Linked DNA regions of Homo sapiens: region 1 is linked to region 2. The links come from fine-mapping of genetic effects on gene expression. Tissue or cell type: esophagus muscle. Region 2 holds a variant in brackets; the other region holds the start of a gene. All regions are shown on one strand. Distances are from middle to middle.

Region 1 (11,105 bases), 21 kb after region 2:
AAAAAGTTTGGCGCAGTGGCTCACACCTGTAATCCCAGCACTTTGGGAGGCCAAGGCAAGTGGATCACCTGAGGTCAGGAGTTCGAGACCAGCCTGACCAACATGGAGAAACCCCGTCTCTACTTAAAATACAAAATTAGTTGGGCGTGGTGGCACATGCCTGTAATCCCAGCTACTCAGGAGGCTGAGGCAGAAGAATTGCTTGAACCCAGGAGGTGGAGGTTGCGGTGAGCCGAGATCGCGCCATTGCACTGCAGCCTAAGGCAACAAGAGCAAAACTCTGTCTCAAACAAAACAAAACAAACAAACAAACAAAAAACAGATGGGGGTCTTGCTACATTGCCCAAGCTGGTTTTGAACTCCTGATGTCAAGTGGTCTTCCTACTTTGGCCTCCAAAAGTGTTGGGATCACATTCATGAGCCACCTGGCTCAGCTGGATTAGACAATTTTTTTTTTTTTGAGACAGAGTCTCGCTCTTTCGCCCAGGCTGGAGTGCAGTGGCGCGATCTCTCCTCACTGCAAGCTCTGCCTCCTGGGTTCACGCCATTCTCCTGCCTCAGCCTCCCAAGTAGCTGGGATTACAGGTGCCTGCCACCACGCCTGGCTAATTTTTTATATTTTCAGTAGAGACGGGGTTTCACTGTGTTAGCCAGGATGGTCTCGATCTCCTGACCTTGTGATCCACCTGCCTCGGCCTCCCAAAGTGCTGGGATTACAGGCGTGAGCCACCGCGCCCGGCCTAGACAATTTTAAAGAAACTTTCTAGACGCACAACAGTTTAATTCTGAGTAATGACGAGGTATGAGTATTAAATGTGTTATTAGCCGAGTTAAAAAGTGTGTTATTAGCCAAGTTTTAGGTTAAAAAAAAACACAAAATCCTACTTACCCTGTTTACTGTGGATGCAAGTGCCTGAAGAACGGCTACTTTATCCCTAAAAATAAGAACCACAAGTTAATCCTCATCAGGGCTCTTCATAGCCACAAACCGAACAAGTGATTCTACTCTCAGTGTACTGGCCAATAACATAGTGCAGATCTCATCTGAAGCTGGTTATGTCACAAGGTCACTAGAATAAATTAGAAATTAAGAAAACTGCTGGTTCTTTCCCCTAGTTGGTACATGTTCCTCTCTTTGCCTGTCCTCTCTGGCCTGGTGCATAATGCCATAACCCAGGGCTAGTGATTTCCATCCCGCCCTCATAAAACTATCTGGCCTACTTCCTCTACCCACTTTCCTATGGATTCTTACTGCAGCTTTCGGGACTACTGTTGCCTTTACTATCCTAATTGGTAGCTCTTGATTCAGTTATAGGAGAATAAACCACAGGCTTCACTCTGGACCTATTGCATCAAAGCCTCCCAAGATCCATGGAGGACTGTCACACACACTCTTACTGAATTCCCAGATAATTCTGATGCAACCTCCTGGTTTAGAACCTCTCAACCATATATAACGTTATGGTAAGAATTGCAGGCCAGCTGTCCACTGCACCTCTGAGTAGAGACCTTTACTGAACTATTAGAAAAGGCTTCACTGGAATAAATGACAGACAAGATAATTTGATCTCAAATATATTTGTGCTCCTATGTTAGATTTAATGTGTTTCCTTTCCAAAAGGGAATTATACCAAGAGTATTTTTCTAAATAAAGTTTAACATAACATTCTTAAGACTATAAGTCATCTGAGAAAAACAAAAGTACAGGAAATTTTATATTTCATCAAAACTAATTCCCTGATGTACATAATATCCACTAAATTTTCTATCCACGTTTAGAAGTCACATTTATGTAATTTCAGCAAGTGTGATAACGACACATTCTCTCATCTGTCAGCATTCCTTCAGCAGATCTTTTATTGCCCTATTTAAGTCTTATCAAGTTAGCAAACTTTCCTAACATATTGAACAAATGGCAGTGAAAAAATGATGACATTCAGATTACTCACTAATTCTCTTTCTTTAAAGGGTTACTTTAAAAGGTATCATACATTATCTTAAAAAAATAAACTAGAACATTACACGTTAACCTAAAGTGTCTGGTGTCATCTTGTGACCCCTCTCCACGATGAATTTGGTATTTGTATTTCCAGAACTTTTAAAGGTATTTTCACACATAAACATCTCCCTAAAAAACGTATACACACTGTCATTCTGCATGTGTCTACATAAGTTTGGCTGCACTATCCATGTTATTAAATATAGAGCTAATTAATTCCTTTCAATGTAAAAAGTTATTGTATGATAACCTTTTAAAATTATCCATTCACTTTTCAATGGGCATTCAGGCTGTTTCAACCTGTTACTATTCCCAAGTAATAAAGAACAGTCTTGTCCATGTATATATGCAAATGTTCCTCCAAAGTGGCTAACCAGTAAGGTACGCACATTTCCAATTCTGATTCTGCCAAATTTCCCTCCAAAGAGCTGTTCCAATTTACTGTCCCATAAACAAACGTATTTCTTCAAATCCTCTCTCTGCCAATACGGTAAGTTTTAATTTGCACTTCTTTTATGATCCCAGTTACCTATGCATTGACATCACTGGGCTCCCTGGCCTCCCTAAAATAATCACACAGTTCAGATTAATAAAGTTCTTAAAAAAGTCTTTTTAAATGAACCCAAGTCTTTTTTTTTTTTTGAGATGGAGTCTTGCTCTGTCGCCCAGGCTGGAGTGCAGTGGCGCGACCTCGGCTCACTGCAAGCTCCGTCTCCCGGGTTCACGCCATTCTCCTGCCTCAGCCTCCCGAGTAGCTGGGACTACAGGCGACCCCCCACCACATCCGGCTAATTTTTTTGTATTTTTAGTAGAGACGGGGTTTCACCGTGTTAGCCAGGATGGTCTCAATCTCCTGACCTCATCATCCGCCCGCCTCGGCCTCCCAAAGTGCTGGGATTACAGGCGTAAGCCACCGCGCCTGGCGAACCCGAGTCTTTAGGTCACATAATTTTAAGACCTAGCTTTTTGAGGGGCCACTAAATGCGTTCAATAGGACTACACTGTAACAAGCACTTTTGTGAAGTTTTAATTCCTGCATATTCAACAAATGTTGAATAAATGAGATGAGGCAATTTGTTCAAGGATATATCCAGTGAATAAAAAAGCTAAATTTTGCTGTCCACACCATTTACTTTATTTTTACCTCATTAGAGATAATAAAGACAGTAACTGTCTGCTCTTGAATCATATGAGAGAACTTCCTTGAAAAAAATTATTCTAATGATGATGTTCATGTATAACCATGTATTATTAACCACGTAAATAGTAACCCACACTAATTCAAAATCTCTTTCAATTGTTCTTTTAAGTAAATCTCATTGCTCATTCACTCACTATTCTCCACCTTTCCATTTTTTGTCCTTTAAACTCCTAGCTTCTCCCCGCTCAGCTACTCTCTTCAAGAATGCTCTCCTATTGCTCTTCCTGTCACTGTCTCCTTACCTAACCCTTACACTTCTCTCATAGTAAGCACTCAACCATTTGCTGAATGAACACTGATAGAATACTTACCAAGTTTTCTTTTTTGGAATTACTACTTCTTCAATCCCTAATGTAAAAAAGAAAACATGAATCAGTTTCCTAGTACTACAATGGAATCCAACGTGTTGATATAAAAATAGAATTCAATATATTTTAAAATATACCTGTTACATCAGTTCCTTCAACCTTTGAGAGGGTTGCACTACCAGAATAAAATCTGCAAAAAAACAAAAGCCTTAAATCTAATAGTCATTAATGAAGTACCCAGCTCACCTCCACCTATGTGTACTTTGAGCCCAAATTCTCCAATTATCACGGATTAAACTGGATAACTCATGTCAATGAACGCTGAGAAGACAGTCTGTACACATGTTCAATATCATTAAGGAATGGATACAAGATATGGACAAGACTGTCAAAACTTTTTTTTTTTTTTTTTTAGAGACAGGGTCTTGCTCCATTGCCTAGCCTTTAGTGAAGTAGTGCAATTATAGCTCACTGAACCCTTGAACTCCTGGGCTCAAGTGACCCTCCTGCTTCAGCCTCCTGAGTAACTAGGACTACAGGCATATGCCACCATGCCCGGCTAGACAAAAGTTTTGGAAGCAAGCAATCTCATTACATAAATGGCAGAGAGGGAGGAAAGTTTTTAATAGCACTTGAACAATCTGGTTTGAAATGAAGAACTTTCAACTTCAGGAACCCAAAACACTATGATGTTTAAAAGAACAATTCAGTGAGCTCTTGCTTCTATACAGATACTGCCCTGATCAGAAAGGACTACCTCACTTAAAGCAATTACAACATAGGGAAGATGACCCATGGCTTCTCATTCCACTTCTTTCAACAATCAAGAATGTACCAAATACATAAGGCCTGATTTAGACTTGGAATTGCTGATATTTTCTATTTTCAGAGGTTCAATATGAAATCCTTTTTAAACCAAAATATAGAATCATTGGCCCATGACTGAGTTTTTAAGTGTTCTGTTTAAGTGTTCTGATCACACTAAAAACACAGTCAACACACCACAGATAATGTGACGGTTAGTATTATCTTGTGTTTCCCCTTACTAAATGGCATCAGTAACATTCAGAAAATTGTCAAGATGTGATTGCACAGACAGATACTTCCTCCAGTAGTATCTGGTTTCAGGTATCATTTAAAACAAGAATACCCCTCTACGTTAAGGACATTTCAGAAAGAGATCAACTCTTTCAAGTTTCTGAGATCAACTCTTTCAAGTCACACTATTTGTTTCTCATGACCTTAAAACAGAGATCACAGTTATTTTGAGAACGGATGCTGAGGAAGAGATTCTGCTTCAGGCAAAGAAAATGAGTAGAAAAATGCTAACGATGGCTACCAGGAAACGGAGGACTGGCATTGAATGGCAGCACAAAGGTTTCTGCAGTATCAGATGGAGTGGTTTCTCTTTCTTGAGGGGAACTAAGGGAGAGTACATATAAAAACATATTGTAAATTACATACCCCACTTATACCTCACAAACTTTTCGGATGGTTATTACCAACTCTAGTCTGCAGATGAGGAAATCTGTCTATTATCATCCAATTAAGTGAATGGCAAACACTAAACCTAAAATTAGGCTTTTAGCAAGTTTTCACTACAAATTACTGCCTCTCATATTCCCACAATGCCACTGTTTGTACTGAGTGAAAAAAAAATTACACAGATAGGTCATACATGTTCCAAGCTATAACTATCACAGATCAAAAGGGCATAGTCAGATCTTTTAGACTTTTCTGCTTTTACGAAAACCTGATAACTTCTTTAGCCAAAGTCCCCACGGTGGCGACCAGAGACTGCCTTTTATTTGGGAAGATCTTGTACGTTCTCCTCGCTCCTCCTGATTGGGTTAAAATGAGTAATGGCGGATAATTTTTAATTTGGGGTAGTGTTGCTAATAGCCACACTCACTGGAACGCAAGCTTCATGAGAGCAGGGTCCTAGCTTTGCGGATGGTGTTAACTACAGAATATTGCAAGCAACCAATAAGTATTTCTCTAATGAATAAATGCGTTGCGAATCCTATTTCAAAGGGCCACCTCCGCGTACCTGGTCTTAAGGGCACGCGACCGTTAAGGGCGCGCATGAGCAAACCATTTCATCGTGCCTACTTCCACAGCCAGCTGGGAAACATAGGACTAAGGTGACTCCGCGGTCTTCTTCGCGGATACCCTAAGCGTCTCTTACCTGCAGCTGCGTGCCTGTTCACACAAACCCGCCCGCCGACCCGTCAGCGGCTGGCCAAGCCTGCTGCGGAGGCCCAGCCAGCGAACAGCAGATACAACCGCCATCTTTGATTTCTCTGCAGAGCATGTTGGGAAAGCGTGCCTCGACCTTCAGGAAGGTGGGGCGCAGTGGGCGGGGAGCAGGGAACAGCTCCGCTATTGGCTGAAGCGGAAGAAGACGAAAGCAATCATAAAATGGGAGGTTGCAAGCTCATGGTTTGAAAGACTTCGTCACGGAAGCTAAAAGCTCTATACACCCGATTTGCCTCGGAGGAATTTTCCTAAATGATTATTTTGATGTCTTATATATCTTTGATTGTTTTCAAAACAAAAGAGCGAGCAGAGAGTCGTACAACTATTTGTTCCCCCCCCATGTAGAAGTGATCTCATCCACGTAAATGTCGTTCCTGCGACCGCTTCCGCGCGCAAGCGCACGTTGAATCGCGTGGTGACTCCGGGCTTGAGGTTGAATTAAGAATAGTCAGGTGGTGAGTGGAACGTCTCTTGGGGTGTCGGAATTCAAAACGGACCTGGAGGATGTTGATCTCCAAGAACATGCCCTGGCGGCGGCTGCAGGGCATTTCCTTCGGGATGTATTCGGCTGAAGAGCTCAAGTAAGGAGTTGGTCGGGTAGCGTGCCCAGCCTGGATCTTGAGGTCGGCGCCCTAAACTACGATTCCCAGAAGCGCTTTTGCCCAGTCTATCCTCTTGAGTCCAGGCTTGTCTGGCGCTTGTCCTGCTGGGAGCCGTAGTTCTGGGAACGTTCCTGGGCCGGCGTGGACTGCCTGGATAAGAGGCCGGTGGTGCTGGGGGAAAGAGTTTGCGCTGAGGTAGGGGAATATAAGGGTGGGGAGGGTCCTGGTCTGCAGCGTTATCATCTGCCAGTCTCCTCGTTAACTAACAAGCATTTGTGGAATTAACCATAGTGTACCTGACATGGTTAATTAGGCACGTAGTAAGTTTCCTCTTGTTTGTAAAATGATTGTCCTTCAAGTGTCAGTTCAGGCGTTAACTTCTCTTTGCTAGGACCCTGCTATATTCTCGGTCTGGTTGTTAAATCAAGGGAACTCTCTTTAGTCTTCATTTTGATCAAGGTAGCATTTGACATTCTCCAATGCACTCTCTTGAAACTTTCCTTTCTTCCAGAACCTTATTTGTCTTCAAGTTCTCCTATTTTTATGACAAATACTTCTACCTCCCTCTCTTCCTCTATCGATCTATAACCTCACAAACATTTATTGAGCATCCAGTTTTTTCCAGGCACCAAGCTAGGCGTTAATGACACATTGGTGAGCAAGGTCTGTACCTCATTTTACTCCTTAAATGTTGATGTTCTTCAAGATTCTATTCTAGTAATGTTTTCTTCATGGTAAATATTGTCCCTAGACAATCTCACCACTTTCATGATTTATAGTCTCAAATTTAAATCCCCAACGCAAATTTATTTCCCTGATTTTCAGACCCATTTGTTCAGCTGTCTGTACATCTTTAATTGAATTTCACACAGAGATCTTAAATGCATATCAAAAACTCAACATGGCCTAAATGCATATCAGAAACTCAACATGGCCGGGCACGGTGGCTCACGCCTGTAATCCCAGCACTTTGGGAGGCCGAGGCCGGCGGATCACGAGGTCGGGAGATCGAGACCATCCCTGGCCAACATGGTGAAACCCCGTCTCTACTAAAAATACAAAAATTAGCTGGGCGTGGTGGCGGGCACCTGTAGTCCCAGTTACTCGGGAGGCTGAGGCAGGAGAATCGCTTGAACCCAGGAGGCGGAGGTTGCAGTGAGCCGAGATTGTGCCACTGCACTCCAGCCTGGCGACAGAGCAATACTCTGTCTCAAAAAAAAAAAAAAAAAAACTCAACACGGCATCCCTCTTCAAAGGGAGGGGTTACTTACCCCTCCAAAATGGTGTACGTAGTGCAAAATAGTCACTAGAAACTGGAAAATTATTCTAGATCTCTCCTGACATATAACTTATTTATTGGGCTCTTACTTTGTGTCACCTACATGTCTATTTGTTCTTAGTCTCCTTTTTCTCCCAATTGCTACTGTGTTGCCTCTGGCCCTTATCTCATATTTGAATTGTCTTTTCCTTCCACCCTCCCCTTACACCTCTCAAGTGCATGCTCCACACTGCTGTCAAAATTATTCTTGCAAAGTGCAAATGTAGTCATGCTACTGTCACCCTTAAAACCCTCCAAATGTTCTCCATTTCCCTCAGATAAAGTATATTTTCTTAGCATAGCCTGCAAAGTCTCCCATGATCAGACCAATGCTGATTTTAGCTATAACATCATCCCTTCTTCAGCCCTATTAAACCACCTGCATATTCCAGAAACCGCCATCATATTTCAACATCTGGGCCTTTCTTTAAGCTATTCCCTCTGCATGCAGTGTCCTTTCAGCCAAAAGGAGGTACTTCCCTCTGTCCCCTACCCAACATACACACCTGAAAGCTCAGTTCACCTCCCTTGTTTTGTGAGGTCATTTTGCACATGATACAGTTGTCTGTCATGGTGCTTTAGTGACTTTTTGTGCTTATGTATATTTGTCTTCCTCCACTATCCTTGAGCTTCTTATATGTGTCACTCTTGTCTTTTATCCTCAAGTCTGAATAAATGGATGAATAAACTCCTGAGCCACAGCTCTGGTATCATTGGTAACAGTGTGCTAGCCCAGAAATTCCAATTATATCATCACTGCCATAAGTGGATACGATTTCATCCAAAAGCAGAAGTGTTTTAAGTTGCCTGAATTTTTAAAAAGATAATTGTGGAGTTTTCAAACAAGTTTAGAGTTGAGACATTTCAATAATACTGCCACCTTTTATTGTGCCAGGTTCTAATAGCTTCCCATCTCACTCAGAGTAAAAACCAAGTCTTTACAAATGGCCTGGAGGGGTCATTTCAGTCTCCTGTTACCTCTCTGATCTCACCTCTATTCTGGCTACCCTGACCTCCTTGCTGCATCCAGAGCACCACGGGCACACATCCACCTCAGGACCTTTGCACTCCCTGCTTCTTCCTCCTGTAAAACCCTCTGCCCAGGTGACTGTATGGCCTGCTCCCTCAACTCCTTCAGCCTTTGCCCAAGTTCCTCCTTAGTGGGCTTCTAGGACCACTTGCCTACTCTGCTCTTCCCTTTCCCTGCATTATTTTTCGTCATAGCCCTTTCTGCCGTCTAACAGACTATACATTTTGTGTCTGTTCCCGTTCCTCCAATAGAATGTAAGGCCTGTAAGCATAGCAGTTCTTGTCTGTTTCCTTAGCACTTAACACTGTCTGGCACACAGTGAGCACTCTGGGTATTTGTTGAGTGTATGAATAGATGGATAGAGGAGCTAGCTGCTCAGTGCTTGGCACTTTCAGTCCTTAACGACACCCATTCTCAGTTCTTAACAACACCATTTGTGGTGGCACCTCCAGTAAAAAATTCAGGCCCAGAGAACAAAATGTCTCTCTAGGAAGTGGCAAAGGTCATCTTCAAACCTAAGTCTATTGATCTCAAACTCTACTGACTGGTGGAATCCTTGCTAGTTGCCCCTACTCTTCATCCCACTCCTGTAATGGTGGGAGGGACTTTCTCCTCTACAAAGAGAGAGGAACTTTGTTTGACACTGTATTTTCTGTATGTTATCTTCTAATCATCCCAATAGAGCTGCTGTGATGCCCAGACTTCAGGTGAGAAAAAAATTAGGTAGTTATCAAAGGATACAGTCAGCAGAGTGAAAGGGCAACCCATGGAATGGGGGAAAATATTTGTAAATTATATATCTGATGAGAGATTGATATCTAGAACATAAAAAGAACTCCTACAACTCAACAACAACACAAAATTCAATTTTAAAATGGACAAAGGACTTAAACAGACATTTTTCCAAAGAAGACATACAGATGGCCAGTGAGTATGTGAAAAGATGTTGAACATCACCAATTTTAGGGAAATGCAAATAAAAAGCTCCTCAAATCCAGTAGGGTGCTACTATCAGAAAAACAGAAAGTAGTAAGTGTTGGCAAGGGTGTGGAGAAAGTGGAAGCTTTTTGTACACCATTAGTGTGAATGTAAAATGGTGCAACCACTATGGAAAACAGTAGGGTGGATTCTCAAAAAACTAAAGACAAAATTACCATGTGATCCAGCAATTCTACTTCTGGATGTGTATCCAAGGAATTGAAAGTAGGGTCTCAAAGAGATATTTGTATACCTATGTTCATAGCAGCATTATTCACAATAGTGAAAAAGTGGAAACTACCCAAGTGTCTATCAATGGATGGGTTGATACATAAAATGTGGTATATACATGCAATGGGATATTGTTCAGCCCTAAAAAAGGAAAAAAGTTCAACACATCCTATAACATGGATGAACCTTGAGGGCACGGTGCTAAGTGAAATAAGCCAGTCACAAAAGGACAAGTACGGTGTGATTCCACTTAATATAAGGTACCTAGAGTAGTCAGATTAATCAAAACAGAAAGTAAAATGATGGTAGCAGAGGAGATGAAGAATTACTGTATAATGGGTACAGGGTTTCAATTTTACAAGATGAAAAAGGGTTCTGCAGATGGAGAGTGGTGATGGTAGCACAATGCAAATGTACTTAATACCACTGAACTGTACTAATTGAAACAGTTATGATGAATTTATATATATTTTATTACAGTTTCAAAAATTAAGATTAAAGAACAAAAGGTAAGTAATTTGTTCAATGTTACCCAGTTCAGGGTTGCAGGTGGACTCTAGATTTGTGGGAAGAGACCACACGCACAACTTTTGAGTTAGATCAAGTTTCTCATGAAATTAGCTTACTGGCAGCAAGGTGACCATATAGACAAGAGCCACAGCAGCAGATCTGCCTCCCTGTCGCCTTGGCCCTTAGAGTGACACTGGCCATGCAACATAGAATCTTCTAGAGCTGAGCAGCTTAGTTCCTGATAGACTAACATTGTTTTACACTCAGAACATGTCACCACTCATGAAAACTTGACACTATTTTTGTGCTTTATTAAAGGGAGTGTTTACATCATTAGGGGACTCTCGTTTCAGCCTTCGGATTTCCTCTAGGCTGTCAGATTGGGATGGTTTCTTTGTCTTTATTTTCTAAATCAGAAAGGAGAAAATTGTAAAAGCAAAGTTAGCCTACTAAACATAGTTGTGTCCTATGGGAGCACCTTTCAAACCAAACATAAAATGTGATGAAACCTTTTTTAAGGTTTGACTAAATGTGTTTAATGTTGTCAAATTTACTATTTCTGCATACAGGGATTGTTGCATCACATTCCCTTCATTGAACTGGGTGGGCTTTGGAGTTAAGTCTATTCCATATCCTGCCTCCCCCACATTCTGTTTGTATTTGTGTCAC
Region 2 (9,955 bases):
GAAAATATGCAAGTAGTAAGTATCACTCTGATACCCTGTCAGCCAGTGGTTCACAAATAAATAACAACAGTAGAGTGTCTTGTGAAAATAATGTTGATTCAACATATTATTGGTTGACAGCAAGTAAGTTATAAGAAATGGGGGGGAGACAAATCCCAAGTTCTGTGAAATTTATTACAATATTATTTTAATTAAGCAATTATACCATTAAAAATTAATCCTGTAACAACACCTGGTCAAGTGCACAAAAGACACCTGCACTGCAGAGTCTGGACTAGTAAAAATCTCCATGAAATAACTCCAAAATCTACCCACAGGAAAGTTAAGTTATGGTTCTTACTATGAAATACTGGTTGCTGCCAACAAATAAAACACCCTGAAAGTATGCCTGGATATACATACGCTTGAGTACCCAGAGTAAAAACCTTGTGAGGATCCATACTAAATACTAGGTTGGTGCAAAAGTAATTGTGGTTTTTGCTATTGAAAGTAGCGGCTTTTGTAATTGCGGTTTTTGCCATGGAAAGTAATGGCAAAGGCCACAATTACTTTTGCACCAATCTAATAGTAAAGCAATTAAATTACCCTTAGGGAACAAGGTTCATCCTAAAACTGCCTGAAATTTTTCCTATGATAAGCATGATTACATAAACTAAAATAAAAACCATTATCAATTTTAACTTACTAATAGGCAAATCTGAAATATTATGGAAGCTTATCTGTTCAGGGGCATGAAAAATGTCAATGTAAACAATAAACAAAGGGTAGGGATAGTATGTGATTGAAAAGTACAGATTTTAGGCCAGGCGCGTTGGCTCAGGCCTGTAATCCCAGCACTTTGGGAGGTGGTCAGGAGTTCAAGACCAGTCTGGTCAACATGGTGAAACTACATCTCTACCACAAAAAATACAAAAATTAGCCAGGTGTGGTGGCGCACACCTGTAGTCCCAGCTATTCGGGAGGCTGAGGCAGGAGAATCGCTTGAACCCAGGAGGCAGAGGTTGCGGTGAGCCACTGCACTCCAGCATGGGGGACACAGTGAACCTCCATCTCAAAGAAAAAAAAAATTATAGATTTTAGAGAAAGAAGAAAAAACAGAAGCAAAGACATGAACAGAAGAGTTAGAAAGTGAAAAGAACCAGGGAGAACCCTCCAGTTACAGATAAATTTAGGAAATGGATAGCAAATTAATAAAGAAATGATACTTACTATGCTCATGGCTGACTGAAAAAACTTATCTGAAAATCAAAGTTCACAAGAGCTTTGGTTACAATGGATAAAATATATTTTCAAGTCAGTAACATTAACAAAAATCCTGCCAACAAAACTGGTAACATGCAAGATAAAGCTAAGAACATAAAAACTTAAGAGAGGCAGGAATGTACCACAATTTTGGCTTTCTCAGAAAGACCATGGCAAATATTACTAAGCTATATACACCTACTATGTACTCAAATTTATTTAAAAAAAAAAAAAAATACTTCTAAGCTATAGGGATCACAAGGCCTCTAACTGGTACTCAGGTAAACCGGCCCTCTGTCTTTAGAGGAGGAAAACACAAGTGATTTCTATACATGCCATCATCCGGGTCCTTTGGAGAAAATCTCTTTCCCATTAATTCATTCATTATATCATAAATGATGAAGGATGATCTCTTTAAAGGGTCTCCTGCAGAACAAGAAAGCAAATGTGTTTAATCCACTTCCTTTACCACCACCAAACTCACTGTACCTAATACAAAGGGACACATTTCTCCTTCCTCCACCTCCAGCCTAAGTCCTCGCATAGATCTGGGTGGAGGCCAATGCTTGCTAAAGGAACCACTATACCCTGCAGAGAGCAATTCTCTGTAAAATCTGGAATAATCACAGGTCTCTGTTCATGTGCTCCACTGAGACTTTCTCCTTCCTTTAGTCTCTTCACATGAAGCCTGACTTACTGAAGTAGGCGGCAGACAGTAACACACACTCCCTCACCAAACCAGCATACTTAGAAAAACAAAATTTTTTTTTTTTTGAGATGGAGTCTTGCATTATTGCCCTGGCTGGAGTGCGATGGCACAATCTCGGCTCACTGCAACCTCCGCCTCCCGGGTTCAAGCGATTCTCCTGCCTCAGCCTTCCGAGCAGCTGGGACTAACGCCCTCGCCACCACGCCTGGCTAATTTTTTGTATTTTTAGTAGAGGAGGGGTTTCCCCATGTTGGTCAGGCTGGTCTTGAACTCCTGACCTCGTGATCTGCCCGCCTCGGCCTCCCAAAGTGCTGGGACTACAGGCATGAGCCACTGCACCCGGCTAAAAATGTTTTTTGCTAGTAATCATTTGTGTTCCCTTTAAATATAATCAGAATGAGGTCAAGAAAAAGTAAACTAGAATTAATGGACAGGGCAGTTCTTAAATATAACATGAACTGAGCACTAATAGGTCAGAAAATCATCTGCAATATTCCCAGTCAAATATTTCTCTACACTCCTTTCCCTACCTGTTTTGTATGTTTGTGGTAGTAAAGCTGTAATGACAGTACAGATAGAGTTTCACAATTTACTCAAGCATGCTTCCCTTTGCTAATATTCTTAATTTTATTAGTTACATAATATTCTCTTTTCAATGTATTGTTTCTAGGTTATTTTAGGCTCTCTCTTTTGGGTAAATTCCTAGAAATTATTATTACTATTGAGACAGGGTCTTGCTCTGTCACCTAGGCTGGAGTGCAGTGGGGCAAACGCAGCTTACTGCAGCTTCAACCTCCTGGCCACAAGCAATCCTCCTGCCTCACACTCCTGAGTAGCTGGGACTACAGGGGTGCGCCACCATGCCCAGCTACTTTTTTCATGTTTAGTAGACATGGAGGTCTCTCTATGTTGGTTTCAAACTCCTGGGCTCAAGCAATCCTCCTGCCTTGGCTTCCTAAATTGCTGGGATTACAGGCGTAAGCCAAAACTACTGCTGCAGACAGGCAAATTTATATACATAAGACAAACCAACACAGCTCCCCCAGAACCCCCATCCCCCAGTCCTGGCTGTTACTTAGGAAATGTAAGTACATCTGACTTTGATTAGCAATTGAACCAGTGATGAGAGTTACAGAGGAAAGGAATATACTTTGGAGTCAGAAATACTAGCTCCATCACAATCTCACCAAGGTTGAGTAAAATTTTAGGGGACACAATTATGGAAACTGTTTACCTGTTTCCAAGGTATAGTCAATTAACTGGTTCCTTTTCCTAAAGATAAAATTTGCCTATACAGGTGAGGATATGGATTTTACAAAATTAGTCCTCCAAACCAGAGAGAAACAACTTCCCTTCTGTAATTTTTATAGTCTATCCACAAGAAAGAATGACTAGAACTGTCAATTCTGAACTCAAGGGTTATTTCTCAGGCTGGGGATAATGGACAAGAACCAAAAGATTTTGAGTGCCTCATATGTGCCCTCCAAGCACAGTAGCAGACACAGTGTGGAACTCATTTAACTACCACACCCTGCTGCTATTCCTCAGGTAGGTATCTAGTCGCTTTGACATAGCTGGTAAATAAATGGTAGAGTGGACATCTCAGCTCAGGTGTGTCTCTCTTCAAAGTCCATCTACTACAGAGCAGAGCTCCCACTGGAACTGACCTAAAAGTGGACAACGCATGGAGCCTTGAGGTCCTCCCAAAACGCTTCACAATAAGTTTACCTTTCCTCTGGAGCAGAAACGTCCACAAACTTTTGGCAAAGATGGAAATGTTCTGAATCTGCATCACGACACATGGTAGCCACTAGACACATGGCTACTGAGCACCAATGTGACAAAATAATTTATTATTTTACTTAATTTTAATTAACTGGCCACATGTGGCTAGTGGCTATGGTGTTAAATAGCACAGCTCCAGAGAACAAAAGGAATTTCAACCAAAATATATTCTACCCAATTCCTGTTTGTACAACATCACTGCCAGTACAATCCATAACCCTCTCCCCTCCAGCTCAAGTTTTAGACCACAAACAAGATTGCTACCCTCAAGAATAATTTTAGGTAGTAAGACCCTGTCCAAAAAAAAAAAAAAAAAATCAGCTAGGCATGCTGGTGGGCATCTGTAATCCTAACTACTCAGGAGGCTGAGGAGGGAGGACTGTTTGAGCCCAGGAGTTCAAGGCTGCAATGGGCAAGATCCTGTATCTAAAAAAACCACAACTTTCTGCTCAGGCTGTACAGGTTAATTTACAAATTCTCTCTTCTTAATTCATATGCAGAGAAGATAACTACAACAATTAATCACATAAACTCAAGAAAGCTGGTCAATTTTCTATATAAATTAACACAATTTAAGGCCATACATACCAGGTTGATCAAACAGGCGAATAATATGGTGATATGTTGCAAGCGAGGGTTCTCAAATTACCAGGTAGACAGAAAAAATAAACAATGAGGTAAAAACACAGCAATCCAAAACATAGTTTACTGAGACACACTGAATTAAAAACATATTGTTAATATTTAAGCAAAATATGCATTTCTATTCCTTTGAACAAAGTTATTTTCCAACTCATTAATGTAAAGGTAAAAAACTATCACAAAGACTGTATCACTTTTTGAAAGTCCAAATACTTATTAGTCACATTCTTCACTGAGAACAGTAAAATATATTGAAGTGAATTGATTCCCAAAGCAACTTTCAATAAAGTAATTAATGAAAAATATACAATACACTAGCACACACTTAGGTTCAAATACCTAATTATGTTGGGAAA[A/G]TGTCATGAATTTAAAACTAGCTAACTCAAAGCAATCACTTCTCCTCAGATTCAACAGATCCATAAACAAAGTACCTAAAATACTAATGAACACTAAGATGATAAAGGCACTCCCACTATAATAAGTACATGTAAGTAAATGTGCCAAACATGGAAAGAAAATTTCCAACATATTATGTAAGCACAAGAATAATTTAAAGCTCTTTGCTTATGTAGCCCTGAAACCTCTGGCTGGCACAGTCTCTGTCCTCAGAGAACTCAAGGGCGCATCCTCACCTATTCCAATGGCTTTCATTTCACGTAAAACCTGTAAGGCTGGCGATCTTGCAAACACATGAAATCTTCGGAGACATTTCAGAATGGTATTAAAAGTCTGAAGATTTGGTTTCACCTTCTGTGCAACCATGTGTCTTAGCAGCTCCTAGGTGAATAAAAAACAAGAAGTATCTTTCATGCCTGGGTAATCTGTCCAATAATCTATGTTTCATACAAAGTAAAGAATTTAGCTTTCTTGCTTATGTTTAAAGCAGGTTAGTAACTATATCCCTCTTTTAAGAACTGTTTATTAATTAGCAGGTTCCATGATTCTGCCTTTTAAAGAAGCCTGCTAATTCAAACACCCACCCCACTTGATAGAGGTGGTCAACTGTCTTCAGTCTTCTACCTAGGAGAGTTTTCCAAGAAAAGACGCAAAAATAATAGACTAGTATGATATAAAAAAGTGGTTGGTTTTTTTTTTTTTTTGAGACAAAGTTTCGCTCTTCTTGCCCAGGCTGGAGTGCAGTGGTGCGATCTTGGCTCACTGCAACCTCTGCCTCGTGGGCTGAGGTGATTCTCCTGCCTCAGCCTCCTGAGTAGCTGCGACTACAGGCGAGCACCACTATGCCCGGCTAATTTTTGTATTTTTGTAGTAGAGACGGGGTTTCACCATGTTAGTCAGGCTGGTCACAAACTCCTGACCTAAGGTAATCCACCCGCCTCAGCCTCAAAGTGCTGGGATTATAGGCATGAGCCACCGTGCCCAGCCGTTTCTATTCTTAAGTTACTAGGCGAGAATCAATCCAGTGATTTCAACTTTTTGAAATTACACCTGATAGGATTTGACAGCAAATATGCATTACTTTGTAACAGAAAAACTATTATGAAAAATAAATGAATAAAATGGTCCAGAATTCTAGCTCTATACTCTCGGTCAAGCAACTTTTTCTTCTTATGTGCCAGACACAGCTGAGTCCCAGGGCTGCGGAAAGGGTAGTGAACAGGTAACTGCTACACAGTGACTGCCATACACATGCTCATAAATGCTGTCTCCAGCCCATGTACTTCTGTTTCTTTTTCTTTTTTTTTTTTTTGAGACGGAGTCTTGCTCTGTTGCCCAGGCTGGAGTGCAGTGGTGCGATCTCTGCTCACAGCAACCTCCGCCTCCCGGGTTCAATAGATTCTCTTGCCTCAGCTTCCCAAGTAGCTGGGATTACAGGCGTGCACCACCACGCCCAGCTAATTGTTTGTACTTTTAGTAGAGACGGGTTTCACCATGTTGGCCAGGCTGGTCTCCAACTCCTGGCCTCAGGTGATCTGCCCGCCTCGGCCTCCCAAAGTGCTGGTATTACAGGTTTGAGCCACCACACCTGGCCAGCCCATGTATTTCTGGTAAAGAGTATTTAAGCCCTATTAAAAAATAAACTGAGGATTCCTCCTTACCAGTATTTTACTCCATTTTTCCTCAAATTTCTCATTTATCGCACATACTGTTGCTTCAATCAATGCATTAAATGTGTATACATCAGCTGTAAAATAATAAAATGATAAAATTTGGGGTTGAAGATTAATCCCTAAATGGCTGAGTTTAAGGCAAAGCAGTCATTCCTATGTGTCCCTTGACTAATCACATGTCCACAAAACTGGAAAACTACTCTCCTCTCTGGATCTCTACTCTTGCTTCAATCATCTACGCCTCAGGAAAAGGTAAAGTGTAGGCCAATGACTGAGGCACGATCCAAAGCCTTCACACAGACAATTAAAAGAAGGAAATGGAGAAAGGGACAGAGGGGAGTTCTCAAACTCACCATGGAGTCTGTTGTTTAGTAACTCAGTGTACAAGTTTAATGCCTGCTCATAAGCTCGGTGCTGGAAAAGGAAAAATTAAGCATCATCAAATTCATTTACTTAAGAAGTCCTTGCACATTTCTGTCCTAGAGTTTGGTAATATAGCTCAGGCTCAATAGATCAGGCTCCTGTTCTCATGAAGCTCATACTCTAGTGCAGTGGGATTTTCTATCCACTGGTAATGCCTAAACATATTTTTATTTGTCACAACTGAAAGTGGGGGAGGAGTACACTACTCACATCCAGTGGGTAGAAGCCAGGGAGCTACTAACATCCTACAATGCACAGGACAGACCCCACAACAAATTACCTGACCCAAAATGTTAGTAGTTCTGAGGCTGAAACACCCTGATCGGTGGAAATGAAAGACAAAAATAAATAAAACAAATGTACCTTCACCATTCCTCGGATCATTGTGCAATAGGAATGTTCATTTTTCTCTGGCATTAGAGAAAAGATTCTCTCAGCGTTGTTTTTTGCTCTAGACACAAGAGAGTAAATGTGAACCCAGGCAATAAGAAATACCAATGAGAGCTACCACCATTTACTGACGGTTTATTATGTTCTAGGCAATGTGCCAAGTACTTTCTATACATTATCTCAATTCTTACAGGGTATTATGGTTATTATCATTTTGAAAATGGGGAAAATCAAGACTTAACGATCTTAATGTGTTGTCAGGGCTTCGCAGGTTAAGTGGCAGAATTACAATTGAAAATGAAAAGTTTATAAACAAGTATATAAATATCTGTGCTATTAAAAACAAGAAGCAACTGTATGACAAAGTCCCTAGTAAAGTTTCCTCACCTTTCTTCAATCTTCAGATACTACTTCCCAGAGGCAAAACGGTTTCTTTTGGATCCTTCTGGTCATATTCTAGCATATGTACTTTTAACTCTTCTCTCATTCCATAACCTCCACCTCCTGGGTTTAAGTGATTCTCCTGCCTCCACCTCTCGAGTAGCTGGAATTACAGGCACGTGCCACCACGCCTAGCTAATTGTTGTATTTTTAGTAGAGATGAGGTTTCACCATGTTGGCCAGGCTGGTCTCAAACCCCTGACCTCAAGTGATCCACCTGCCTCGGCCTCCCACGGCACCAGGATTACAGGTGTGAGGCACTGCGTCCAGCCTACCCCAAGGAATTTAATCTTTCATCCTATCAAATTCATCACTTCAATAACAATTTTAGATAATCATGGTAGCTTTCCCTCTCCAGACATTCACATGAAGTGTCTTCCTTTTAGACACCCAGCTAATTCTCCAATATAATTAAGTTATTACCTTTCATTCAAACTGCTGTGTATGTCTACATGTTGTCAGTGGTCTTAATTTAGCAGTACACTCTAGTGTCCATGATATTTTTAGTAAACAAAAGTATTAAATCTTTCAGAATTAGAGGTATATATTCCAAGGTAGCACTGTTAATGAAACTACCAAAGGAACCATACCATATGAAAGTTATGCTGAGTTAAACAGATGAGGGAAAAAAAAGGGTCAAAGTCTCAACAGATTCTTGTGTTGTTGAATGGAGATAAAGACCTTATTGAAAAACGGTCTAAATGTGTATGAATACAAATAGTGAAATTTATATTGCACAATAAAAATCAATTATTTTAGAACATCACAAGAAAACATCTTCACAGGGTGATGGGGCATATTCCATGCACTGTAAGACACTGTAATTCAAGGTTCTAATTACGTGTGACATACCGCCATGTAACTCCAAACTGATGACCAGCTTTCCTCCTAGATGTCTCATCATTTTCCTCTTCCTGAAATGAATAATCATCAAAAGAAATAAAAGTTAAGGCAATGGAATGCATTTCCCAGTCAGACTACTCAAAATCAGAAAGGCAAAGGGAACTCAGAAAAATAAAGGAAACATAGATCCAGCAGAAGGCAAAGAGGAAGCCCAGTTACGCTTACACCTATACAGTTAATTTCTTAAGTGCAAATCAGATGAAAGGCCAAGTTGACTCTCAAAGCAACAAGTGACAGCGTGGAGACAAGATGAAGCCAGTTCCCTGTATGGCCTGGTCCTCAGACAGAAAGAGGAAAACCAAACAACACAGCCTATTTGCTCAGAGACTACATCTGGCTTGATCCATACAGATAAACTGTCATAATTAGGGTGAAAGCAAGATAAACAACATATAGTTAATGCCTAACACTCACCCAAGCAAACTAAGACTTCTTTTTTTTTTTTTTTTTAAGACAGAGTCTCGCTCTCTCGCCCAGGTTGGAATGCAGTGGCGTGGTCTTGGCTCACTGCAACCTCCACCTCCTGGGTTCAAGGAATTCTCCTGCCTCAGCCTCCGGAGTAGCTGGGACTACAGGCGCGTGCCACCACGCCCAGCTAATTTTTTGTATTTTTTTTAGTAGGGACGGGATTTCACCATGTTAGCCAGGATGGTCTCGATCTCCTGACCTCATGATCCACCCGCCTCGGCCTCCCAAAGTGCTGGGATTACAAGTATGAGCCACTGCACCTGGCAAGACTTCTTACAAGAATAAATCTTGTCTTTATTTATAAACCAAGGTCTGGGATGAGGCTGACGTAGAGCAATACAGGCTTGGTTGGCATTGCAGAGGTCAGTGTTGGCTCTGTAGCCTGCTGCCTCAAGAGCTGGGGCTGGAGAGGCAGAGGGCCAACCAGAGCAGGGCTTCAGGAAGTGATACTCTGGAAAGCAAGGTTTAACTGCAACCTACTGCCTATGCACTTTTAAAAATGTAAAGTTCTCTACATAAATAATCCACATTTGGCCAGGTGCAGTGGTCAGTAATCCCAAAACTTTAGGAGACTGAAGGATCACCTGAGCCCCAGAGTTGAAGACACCATCCTGGGCACTACAGCAAGACCCTATGTCTACCCGCCCTCCCCACCCCAAAAAAAACTAGCCAGACATGGTGGCCCACACTTGTGGTCCCAGCTATTTGGGAGAATGAGGAAGGAGGAACACTTGAGCTCAGGAGTTAAAGGCTGCAGTAAGCTATGATAGCATCACTGCACTCCACCCTAGGTGACAGAGTGAGACCCTGTCTCTGAGGGGGAAACAAGAAATCCACATTTAGTTGGGCAAAGAGTAGAAAAGATAGAAACGAAGAAAAACAC

Which allele goes with the higher level. Alleles are on the strand shown, and positions count from the first base shown. SD is a standard deviation of normalised expression in the study named.
For the expression in esophagus muscle of the gene that starts at base 6,162 in region 1, A is the low allele of the variant in region 2 and G is the other (moderate effect, 0.50 SD a copy in GTEx).

What was found.
Region 1: POLR1A starts here. The variant in region 2 is fine-mapped to the expression of POLR1A in esophagus muscle (GTEx, PIP 0.98).

The regions. Positions count from the first base shown.
Region 1 is chr2:86,100,943-86,112,047 of GRCh38, reverse strand. It overlaps POLR1A (RNA polymerase I subunit A), which reads left to right and starts at 6,162. Exons shown (of 34, transcript NM_015425.6): 1 at 6,162-6,348. The coding sequence starts at 6,272. It overlaps PTCD3 (pentatricopeptide repeat domain 3), which reads right to left and starts at 5,813. Exons shown (of 24, transcript NM_017952.6): 1 at 5,697-5,813; 2 at 3,646-3,698; 3 at 3,512-3,548; 4 at 890-935. The coding sequence starts at 5,800. It overlaps LOC124907852 (a long non-coding RNA gene), which reads right to left. Exons shown (of 2, transcript XR_007087121.1): 2 at 10,727-10,843. RefSeq lists enhancers at 5,503-5,762, 6,143-6,352, 6,553-6,642.
Region 2 is chr2:86,122,361-86,132,315 of GRCh38, reverse strand. It overlaps PTCD3 (pentatricopeptide repeat domain 3), which reads right to left. Exons shown (of 24, transcript NM_017952.6): 9 at 8,554-8,615; 10 at 7,234-7,321; 11 at 6,801-6,861; 12 at 6,436-6,521; 13 at 5,011-5,155; 14 at 4,325-4,375; 15 at 1,579-1,668; 16 at 1,210-1,238. Among named protein-coding and RNA genes, the nearest start is that of SNORD94, 8.5 kb to the left of the region's middle. The variant A/G (reference allele first, on the strand shown) is at 4,735.